Regions from separate parts of the Homo sapiens genome. Here region 1 is linked to region 2. Evidence: fine-mapped QTL for protein levels in blood plasma. A gene starts in region 2. The other region holds a variant in brackets. All regions are shown on one strand. Distances are between the middles of the regions. Region 1 overlaps GALNT16 (polypeptide N-acetylgalactosaminyltransferase 16). Region 2 holds the start of GALNT16 (polypeptide N-acetylgalactosaminyltransferase 16).

What was found. PIP is the chance, under the fine-mapping model, that this variant and not a neighbour inherited with it causes the effect. Sun 2018 read protein levels with aptamers (SomaScan).
Region 1: its variant is fine-mapped to the plasma level of the GALNT16 protein (Sun 2018, PIP 0.95).

Annotation. Positions count from the first base shown.
Region 1 is chr14:69,324,049-69,329,409 of GRCh38, forward strand. GALNT16 (polypeptide N-acetylgalactosaminyltransferase 16) reads left to right here. Exons shown (of 15, transcript NM_001168368.2): 3 at 644-742; 4 at 1,289-1,356; 5 at 1,914-1,979; 6 at 4,402-4,523. Among named protein-coding and RNA genes, the nearest start is that of GALNT16-AS1, 66 kb to the left of the region's middle. The variant G/A (reference allele first, on the strand shown) is at 2,710.
Region 2 is chr14:69,257,959-69,263,319 of GRCh38, forward strand. It overlaps GALNT16 (polypeptide N-acetylgalactosaminyltransferase 16), which reads left to right and starts at 2,200. Exons shown (of 15, transcript NM_001168368.2): 1 at 2,200-2,509. The coding sequence starts at 2,333. It overlaps GALNT16-AS1 (GALNT16 and EXD2 antisense RNA 1), which reads right to left and starts at 2,569. Exons shown (of 4, transcript NR_184249.1): 1 at 2,332-2,569. RefSeq lists a silencer at 3,246-3,305.

The DNA of each region.
Region 1 (5,361 bases), 66 kb after region 2:
ATGGATGGCTGGGGAGGGAGGAAGTGACGGGATAGGCCTTTGGTGTCTTAACAGAGGCTTGTTTCCTCCAGGGGACCCAGTACCCTGGGAGGAGTGAGACTGCTCCCCAGCTTGTTGTCTGCAGCAGGGCTGTCAGTGTTGGGCAGTGACAGGGAGGAATTCCCTGGCAGCCAGGGTAGGGGTGATTCCTCTGCAGATTCTACCAAATGTCCTGAGCTGGGAAGAGAGAAGGAAGAAACTCTAGGGTATCAGGACAAACAGAGGTAGTTTTCCCTCTCGCACATACCCCCCACCATACGACAGAGTGTGGTCAGGGCTGTATCCTGGGGCCTGGTGCAGTATCTGTATATACTAGGGAGCCCCCTCTGGGGGCTCTGAGATCTCTGGTAAAGAGCCCCCAGGCCTTGGAAGGTCTCCCAACCTGCTGCTTCCCTCCCAGGACCCCAGGATGGGTGGCATCGGGGTTCTGGGCCAGTGTGGGATGCAGCATGGGGGTGGAGGCGCGGGGCCTCTGGCCTGGCTGTTGGTGTGCCTTCTCTGCCTGGCAGAAGTATTCTCAGGCACAAGACTGGACAAAGAAAAACATTGACCTGCCCTGAGGATGCCCTCATGGCTGGCTCTGACCTCTGTGCTCCCTTCTCAGCTGCCCATCTGTGTCCTACTCCTCGGACCTGCCAGCCACCAGCGTCATCATCACCTTCCACAATGAGGCCCGTTCCACCCTGCTGCGCACAGTGAAGAGGTAAGTCCAGCCATGGGACTCTCATCTCAGTGGTGCTGGCAGGGGAGGACATTGGGATTGGGCGCTGTGGCCAGACAGCTTGAAGCCCAGCAGGTGCTGGAGGCTGAGTCCTGTACTTCTGAGAGGCTGAGACTGGTGAATCAGGGCCAGGAAGACCCCAGAAGTCAAACTGTTAGAGGAATGCGACAGTCAAACACCAGGTCAGATGTCCAGGACAAGGGCAGAAATGCAGGTGTCAGGAGCTGAGGGAGGCCGGGCTAGACAGGAGGCCTCAGGAGGGTGATGGAAGCCCAGCAGTGTCTGTCAGTGTCAGAGAGAGGTGGATTGGAGGTGGATTCTTCCTGCTAAGCCTGGGCTTGTGGTCAAGTTGAACTCCCATCTCCCCATTTCCTCAATGAACTTAGACAAGAATAGGATTCAGGTAGGAGCGCCCAGCATGCTGGCCCTGGAGCTGGGCGGCTGGGGAGTCCCACGGCCCCGGGAGTGGTAAAAATGGGAGGTGGTTCCTAAATCCAGGCTCTTTCTCTGTTTCCACTGCTACTGTAGTGTCCTGAACCGAACTCCTGCCAACTTGATCCAGGAGATCATTTTAGTGGATGACTTCAGCTCAGATCGTGAGTAGTCACCTTCCTTTTTGCAGCCCTCCATTCCGCCCTCGTCCCTGTTTCCCCAGAACACCAAGGCAAGCACCCTGAGGTTGTCCTGACCATCGCAGACACCTTTCTGCCCCCAGCAGGGATCCTGTCTTTTCTAGGACCCCTCCCTGGTCCTGTTCCCTGGTGTCAAAGGAGGGGAAAGAAGGGTGGGTGTTGCTTTGGATGGGACTCTAGTGAGATGATATTGTTTTTAAAAAGTAAAGAAAATCAACAGCATCCTTCATTATTACAACTGCCAAATGCAGATGATAGCTGGGCTGGTAGCCACCCCCAAGCGTGCTTTCTAGTGCTCCCTGAGGTGGAGTGGAGTACTGCCATAGGTACAGGCACTCCTCAGTCTGGCCTGAGAGTGGGGCAGGGCAACCCTTCGGCCAGTAGTGATGACCATACCTCTTCCCAATCCCCATCCCCAACCCTTTCCTGGGCTTAGTATGGGGCAATTTTCATGGCAGCCAAACCACTAGTGGCCTGATGCCCATGTCTAAATGAGCTTGCCTTCCTCTTTGCATCCTCAGCGGAAGACTGTCTACTCCTGACCAGGATCCCCAAGGTCAAGTGCCTGCGCAATGATCGGCGGGAAGGTGAGTCCTTGCACCCTGGGTCCCACCAAGGGCCCATCTTGGTGTCATCCTGTGCACTTCCCCACTCTCTCTTGGTGCCGTGGCACACCAAGCCAACATGGTCCTGCTGCATTCCTGATGGCTGAGACCAGGTTCTGCAGAAGACTCTCCTCCTTCCCAGATCAGCCCCATCAAGGCACAACTGTAGGCAAGTTGCTCCATCTCTGACTGCCTTAGCTGTCTCTCCTGAGAAATGGGATAAGACAGTCCCTTTCTGCCTTGCAAGGTGATTGTAAGGATTGCATGAGACAGGCTGTGTGGAAAGGCTTTGAGAAAAATCCAGAAGCATAAAGCAGATGTGATCTCACTTCCAATCCAGATGTGTTTTGGAGTAGCTACTACAGCGTGGCATTGTGCATGGCACTCTAGGGGACACGAAGGAAGTACAAAGCATAGTCCCTGCCCTCGGAGAGCTACTACATAGCCAAGGGGTCAGAATCCACTGCAGCCACAGGCTGGCTGTGGTTGTGTATGAATAGCATGGATATCAGAGGAGAGCTGGAGTGAGCAGGGAAGGCTTCCATGGAGGAATGGGCCTCAATGGGGTGTGGGGGCATCATGAGACAGGTAAAGGGGAGCAAGGGAGGGCATGCCAGCTTGTGCACTCTGCAAGCAAAGGCATCAGTCAGGGGTATGGGCATGCGCAATACTAACAGCCCCTTTCCTGAGGTCTCCTCCCCTGCGGGCATCC[G/A]GTTTGCTACTTTCAGTCCTTGTACTCAGCCCACTGTGCCTGTTGTACAGACAAGGGAACTGGGGTTTAAGGAGCTTCAGCGATTTGCCCAGGGTGATGAATAGAGCAGCCATGGCTCCAACCTGTGGGGCCCAACCCAAAGGCCAGCCGCCTACTCATACTCATACTCCCTTCCTGCGAGACCCCAGGCCTGGTCAGCATGGGGAATAGATGGAGTGAATTGAGATGATAGAAGACCTTGGAAGCCAGAAGAAAGCATTGACTTCATAAGGCAGAGGTAGCAGGGAGCCACTGAGGTTTTAGAGTAAGAGAGGGATGTGATTGATATGTTTAAAATAATCCCAGCACTTTGGGAGGCTGAGGCGGGCAGACCACTTGAGGTCAGGAGTTCAAGACTAGCCTGGCCAATGTGCTAAAACCCCGTCTCTACTAAAAATACGAAAATATCTGGGTGTGGTGGCACATGCCTGTAGCCCCAACTACTCAGGAGGCTGAGGCAGGAGAATCACTTGAACGCTTGAACCCAGGAGGCAGAGGTTGCAGTGAGCCAAGATTGCGCCACTGCACTCCAGCCTGGGTGACAGAGCGACACTCAGTTTCGAAAAAAAGAAAGAAAGAAAGAAAGACCAGTCAGGCCAAGGGGCCACAAGAATACCAGTGAGGGAGACCTTCAAACCAGAATGGAAGTGGCCGAAGTTAAATCCTTCCCAAGCCACTGGGCTGTAGGTACCGTCAGGTCTGGGAATATGCTGTCCCTGGATTTGACAACAGTAAATGTAAATTTATGACTCGATGCTTTGTAGACACTTTTGGAGTGGAGATTGATGGGCTTTTGGCTGGCTGGCGGGCTGGTAGGCAGCTAGAGGCAGAGTCTGGGGCAGAGGCATGGCTAGGGAAATGTCTCCAAGGAGCTGCTTATACTCAGAGCTCTAAGAGTGAGGCCCTTCCCTCCCACAGCTCACAGGGCACACATGGCCACTCTGGCAGGGGCAGGAGAAGCTGGGCCTCCTCCCTCCTGACCAGGCAGGTCTCCGCCCAGAGCAGAGTGCTGCCCAAAATGAGGCTGGTGAGGCTATCGGGGGACAGGCACAGAAGAACAGAACCTGACATGTGTGGGTCTCCCAGGCACCAAGCTCTGTCCCTGTCGTCTTGTTTGATCCTGACAGTCAGGGATTATTATCTCTCTGAATCTTATAGATAAGAAAACTGAGGCTCAGAGCGGTTAAATAACATGCTGAAGGTAAGGAAAGGGGCTGCCATACAAACTTAAGCCTATCTTAGTCTCGAAGATTATCTCCATGCTACACATAGGGGTATGGATGGAGGGGACGACCCAGAGGTTCCCATGGGAAAAAGTTTTGTTTTCTGGTTCTCCTTTGGGATCAAACTACTTTATTGCACTTTCCACGCTCTAAACTGTGACTGTTCATCAGTGTGTCCCTAGAGCCCAGACAGTGACTGGCACATAGAGGGCACTCGGGGTGTGACCCTGGAGTGATGGTGGTTGATGGGTGGATAAGAAGAAGCAAGGGAGGGAGGCAGGAAACAAGCAGAAGTATAAAGTCAAATCTAATCACAATAACTCAGGAAGCCTCAGCCCCTGAAGGAGAGGAGAGCCTTGGGACTTTGGGGGACAGGTGGGAAGCCAGTTGGCCCAGTCCCAGCGCCAAGCCCTATCTACTCCTCTTGTAGGGCTGATCCGGTCCCGAGTGCGTGGGGCGGACGTGGCTGCAGCTACCGTTCTCACCTTTCTGGATAGCCACTGCGAAGTGAACACCGAGTGGCTGCCGCCCATGCTGCAGCGGGTGAAGGAGGTGAGCCACTGTCTCTGGGGAGCTGGGCGTCCTTGGGGACTCAGCCACTACGTTCCTGGCACCGAGGCCTATGGGACAGTATTTGAAGCTGGGCAGGCATCGTAGGAAGCCCAAATAGTCTACTTCCCCCTGAGTGACTTCACCTTATTGAGTTTTCTCATCTGAAAATGGGGATAATTGTCATAATTATCCCACTGGGTTATTGTGAGAATGAAATTGGATGAAAGCCTGGGTGAGCTACAAAGCTCCTGCTACAAATGGGTGTTGTTTTTCTCCTTGGAGAGTTAGGATCCTGTGCTGGGAGAGCTTTTGTTCGGGCTGGGAAGCCCTTGCAAGAGGGAGCAGAGGATGTTGTTCTCAAAGAGAGGAGAGGGTAGGAGGGCCCCTGCCACGTGCCTACTGTTCTCCAGAACAGGGAGGATTTGGACAGATGGCAGAAAAGGATGAGGTGATAACAACCCGACCATAAAAAGACAAATAACCCAATTTAAAAATTGGCAAAGGGGCCTGGAGCGGTGGCTCACCCCTGTAATCCCAGCACTTTGGGAGGCCGGGGAGGGCAGATCACCTGAGATCGGGAGTTCAAGACCAGCCTGGCCAACATGGTGAAACCCCATCTCTACAAAAGTACAAAAAGTAGCTGGGCATGACGGCGGGTGCCTGTGCTCCCAGCTACTTGGGAGGCAGAGGCGGGAGAATCACCTGGTCCCGGGAGGCAGAGGTTGCAGTGAGCCAAGATCACACCACTGCACTGCAGCCTGGGCAACTGAGCGAGACTCCATCTCAAGAAAAAAAAATTGGCAAAGGATTTGAGTAGACATTTTTTCAAGGAAGATAT
Region 2 (5,361 bases):
AAGGCAACTAGAGATGCACAGACCAGGCTGGGATGAGGGGAGCAGCCTATGACAACAGGGCTACTCCCCAAGTTTTCACCTGGCTCACCTGAGAGATGTGTGAAAATGGGGGCACCAGGAGGGTAGTTCCCTTACATTTTCTTGGTTGACCTGAGAGGCCTGTGGAGCCTGATTCCCAAGGAGCAAGGTCTTTCCTGGCCTCCCACAAATGGCACCGCTGGATCTGCCCCATGATTCCTGCGGAAACCAGATGGAGGTTTGGCAGTGGTTTTCTCCATCTATGCAAACAAGCCCTGGCCCCTGGCGCAGTCTTATTAAACTCCCCAGGGGAGAGAGACCTGGGAGAGCATCTGGCGTCTCCAGACTCCTGCCCCTGTTGTGACTGCCACACCTTATGCCTGAAATTCCCTGCTACTTGTGTAGACCCTTTGTGAGGCCCTCTTTGTGCATTCTCTTCTTTCTAGGTCCCATTCCTGCGTGGGTCACTTTTGGACTTGTCTAAGTGTCATCGTAATTAGTCTTCTGAGTGAGGATATCGTATTGCAGTAATGACCCTGGGTTTTCCTCAGCAAAAACCCAACTAGGGTTTCTTCACCTCAACAGAAATGTATTGAGCATCTATTATATGTGCGGTTCAGTCTCGAGTGCTGGAGAAATGGAGAAAAGCCACCTGATTTTACTTCTATCTGTCAGGGTGGTGCTCATGGGATGCTTGTGGGGGGGCATGATGCTGTGACTTCAGTTTGCCTGATTCCCCAGATGGCTTCATTTAGAGGCTGGACCCTATGTGGGTCTTCGGAGTAGCCATGGTGTCCAGCAGTGCCAGCAGGAAGCAGACTCCTCAACAACTCTGCCCCGGCATTCAAGGACCTCCTGAGTTCAGACTCACCCAGCCTGGCCAACCTCAACTCCTATCAAATCCTAGGCCCCCTGCAACGCCTGGCAGCTCTCTCTCTTGAACACATCAAGCTCTTCCATCCTCTGGATTTTTGCAAGGCCTATTTCTGCAGTCTCTCCCCTGTCCTCACCTCCCCCTTCCTTACCTCTTAAGTGATTCATCCACCTTTCTGAGAGCTTTCCCAAAGGCCACCTTACAATAAATTATTTCTTCCTCTGTTGGATCCCTACTTTGTTGTTACACATCTATTCATTGAGCGCTCTGTGCCCGACACTGTGCTGGTTTCCTAAAACTCATCCAAGCCTCTTGCTTTCTGCCTGGAGTGAAGAGTAGTTCACGTTCTGATTCTCAGTGCCTCTAGGGCTGGAGCGGAATCTTAATGTCTGTGTCCTCGTCTCTCACCACCGCGTTTTGCACTTTGTCGAAAGGTGTCAGATGGTGAGATGGCTTCTAGACTGGGCTCTGCCCACTAATTAGCTGTGTGGCCTTGGGAGAATCATCCGGCCTCTCTTGCTGCCCTTCTTTCCGATGAAATAATGCTGACGATGATATTTCAGGGTTGTCCAGGGGTCAATGAGGCGGGATAGAGGGAAGCATCGTGAAATCTGGGAGCCCCAGGCCAGCGAAAAATGTGGAAGGGCCGTACCCGCACTCTCCTAGCACTGGGTGTGAGGCAGCGTCGTTTCCCCTTCGCGCTCTTCGAATGTCAAGTGCACCAGCTTCCAATCCCTCCTCTGGGCGGGCCCGGTCTGGCTAATCTCAGCTGCAGATTCCAGTACAAACTCAGGACTCTCCCCCGCCCAGCCGCCCCTACACAAGGACTCGCCGAACACACCTTGAATCCCGCGCCAGAGCGCAGCCCGGAACTGCAGCTCGCGGCGCGGGCCCAGGTCGGGGGTCGCGCGTCTCCAGTCGGTGACTCAAGGCCGCTCGGTCCGGGGGTGGGTGTGGGTCGGCAGGACCGACCAGGGCCGCGCGGGGGCAGCTGCCGGGCGTTCGGTCACCTAGCGGTGGGAGCCGAGGCTGGCTTTGGCCAGTCGCCATTCCGCCGCGGGCGTCTGTCTCGCCGGGTTCCCGGGCGCGGGAGGAAGGCCCGCGCCGCTTCCCACTCGGCGCGCTTCTCTCCCAGTGCGCAGTGGCCTGGTGGGTCAGCCGGCGGCGGCTGGAGCGCGGGGCCGGCCCTGCGCACGAATGAATGGGCGCCCGGGGGACGCGCGCGCTCGGGGCTGAAGGGCATTAGGACCGTGAGGATCGCTCCGCGATCCTGTCTCTCCCTATCACCCCCCCGCCCCCCCACCTCTCTCCTTTTTCTGCTCTGCAGGACTGAGCAGCTAGGCGCGAGCGAAAACAAACAGCTGGGGCTGCGAGCGCCCCCGCCCCGGCCCCGAGAGCACGCCGGCCCAGTCCCCCACCTGGGGCGCCCGTCTGCCCACCATGAGGAAGATCCGCGCCAATGCCATCGCCATCCTGACCGTAGCCTGGATCCTGGGCACTTTCTACTACTTATGGCAGGACAACCGAGCCCACGCAGCATCCTCCGGCGGCCGGGGCGCGCAGAGGGCAGGCAGGAGGTCGGAGCAGCTCCGCGAGGACCGCACCATCCCGCTCATTGTGAGTACGCCCCGAGCGTCGGCCGGCCGGCTAGGGAGCCGCGGCGCGCGTCCAGACCCTGCGCGGCGGCCGAGGGCGCGGGGCCCGGCCAGGGCTGAGTGCCCGCTGCGCCGGGCCGGCTTTGTATATGTTGGAGCATTCCTGCCCGTTGTTATGGCAACCTCTGCCGGGCGGCGGGGCTGGGGCGCACCGACTAAGGGAGGGTGACAGAGGGTGGGGGCTGGGAGAAAGTGCTGCAAGTTTGGTGGGCCCGGCGTGCGCGCGCGGCTGGGAACGTGGCGGCTCTCCCGGCTCTGCGCTGCCGGGGCCGGGAGTCTGGGGGCTGCGGGAGCCTCGTGTGCCCCGGAAGGCTGCCGGGCCCAGCGCGCGGCGAGCGGGCGGTGGGAACCACTCGCAGCCGAGCGCGTAGGTGGCAGTGCGCAGCCCCTCTCCAGCCTTCTGGGGGCAGAGGACATCGGGTGGGGGCGTGGGTAGGGGAAGGCTCTCTAGGCGCTGCGCCTGGCTTCGAACCCCCTTCTGAGCCGGGTCAACTTGAACCCGCTTCTTCGGCGCGGACACCCAGCTTCCCCGGAGTTCTCTGGGTTGAGGAGAGGTCTCGCACTGTACGCGTCTCTCACTCCCAACCTTAGGGTCCGCCACCACGGGTAGGTGGGCAGTGTCAGCGCCCGAACTTGGCGATACCCTTGCATGAAGTCAGCCTCGCGACATCTAAGCGGGCAGGGAAACAAAGGCAGTGTGGCACAGCGGGGGCGGCGGCGGGGCTGCGGGGGCCCTTGGCGCTCTGGGGACCCGGGCGGGGGCGTGCGGAGCCGCAGCCGCCCTGCAGGGGGCGATCCTGTCGCCGTCTCCGTCCGAGCCCCAGGTGACAGAGCTGTGCGTGGCCAGGCAGGGGCACCTGTTGAGGCGGGAGGCTTTGGCACCCGCCGAGAGTGCGCTCGAGCGGGCGCATTCTTCCAGACGGGGGCGGTTGGTGGACGAGAGCCTCGGACGACCCTCGGGAACTACCAGGGCGGGGCAGCCTGGCCGGATGAGGACCAGGAAGAGGAGAGCCGAGTGGGGCGGGGGTAAAGGAGTGAGGAAGCGTGGCGATTCCGACAAGGAAAGATCTGGGCCTGGGGGTGGAGGGGTGAGGAGATCCGCGGGGGAGGTGCAAGGTCCGGAGGGCTGAGGCTTGTGTGGAGCCGAATCCGAGAAACGCATCCAGACGCGGATCTGAACCCCAGGAATATCGGGAAGTTCATTGGAGAGTGTCCCCTCATATTCCCATCCTGCCCCAGATTCCGAGTCCCCTGCAAAGGAAACATTATTTCAGGGCTTTGCCTGAGGAGACCTGGGGCGGGGGGGTGAGGTTGTGGGTTTTGTCCTAGATACCAGTCTGGGTGAACTCTCTGGGGGCAAGCCTGATTAGGTGCACTGTTCCCTTCTGGGCTGTTCTCCCAGGACACTGTTTCCAAAGCACTTGTCGCCCTTTGGACAGAAAACTGATAAGGAAAAGCCTCCTGTGCTGAGGCCCCAGAGTGTTGTGATCTGAGCAGAGGGACAGGTTGGAGCTGGAACTGTCCAAACCAGCAGTGGCCTCCAGACCCCAGGGAGCTTCCTCTCCAGGAGCCCAGGCTGCCACATTCATACTCAGTGGCAGGAAGAGCCCTAGTCTCAGGCAAGGCAGGCTGGCCAGATGCTCTGTCCCTCTTTCTGGTGAGGCGATGAGAAGAGGGTCTGAGTTGGAAGGGGCGGAGAAAGAGGCTGGGCAGGGAGGAGAGGAGGGAAGAGAGCACAGGAGACTGCTGCTCAGAGCCTCTGCTTTGGAACCCGGAACCTGAACCCTGACCTGGCCCATGCACCTCTCTCCTGCTCCTTCCAGAGTCCTGTAAGATGCACTGGGAGGGCCGCTCACATTTCTCAAGAGTCCCAGAATGGTGTAGGGGACCTGCTGGAAGGATTCAGCACTCATTTTGAGGGGTGGGAATTGGAGGTCATGAGAATCACCAGTAAACATCCTCTTGTCCCTGCTTATTCCCACAGGGTTTGACTTGCTGCAGGTAAGAAAAGGTCTCAGAGCGGGAAGCTAAGTTTAAAGTATGAAGGAGTATCAGGGAGATACCTGGGAGCTGGGAAGTGAAGGTGCAGGAAGAAAGGGAGAATGGAAGTCCCTGGGAGTGGCAGAGCCTTCTGTGGCCACTTAGGGGCACAGCCAGCTCCCTCTTTGTTCTTAAGCTTTAGATGCCTGTTCCACCAGCACTGACCCCCCCGTCAGGCACCACTTTTGACAACTGCCTTGCATTGTTTCATTGTATTCCTCTCTTCCAGTTATTTCTTCCATGTGATTTGCAGCTGAATGTAAGTGATGCATGCGGGAACTGTGCTGGAAGCTCCTTGCATCCCCACATTGATGCACACAGCAAGATTTCTTTTTTTCTTTTTTTTTTTTTTGAGATGGAGTCTCACTCTGTCACCCAGGCTGGAGTGAGGTGGCATGATCTCGGCTCACTGTAACCTCCACCTCCCGGGTTCAAGCGATTCTCATGCCTCAGCCTCTCGAGCAGCTGGGATTACAGGCATGCGCCACCACTCTCAGCTAATTTTTGTATTTTTAGTAGAGATGGGGTTTCATCATGTTGCCCAGGCTGGTCTCAAACTCCTGACCTCATGTGATCCATTCACCTCAGCCTCCTAAAGTGCACAGCAAGGCTTCTTAAAGGAGTGAAATAGGATTCTCACCCATTTCTGGGGGCAGTCAATGCTTCACATCCCCCTAATATTATTGTATTATATTCATATCTCCTTAATATTTTATTATCAACTGTAACCTCTAAGTAAGGAGGTGGCTCTAAGTAAGGAGGTGGGGGATGTAC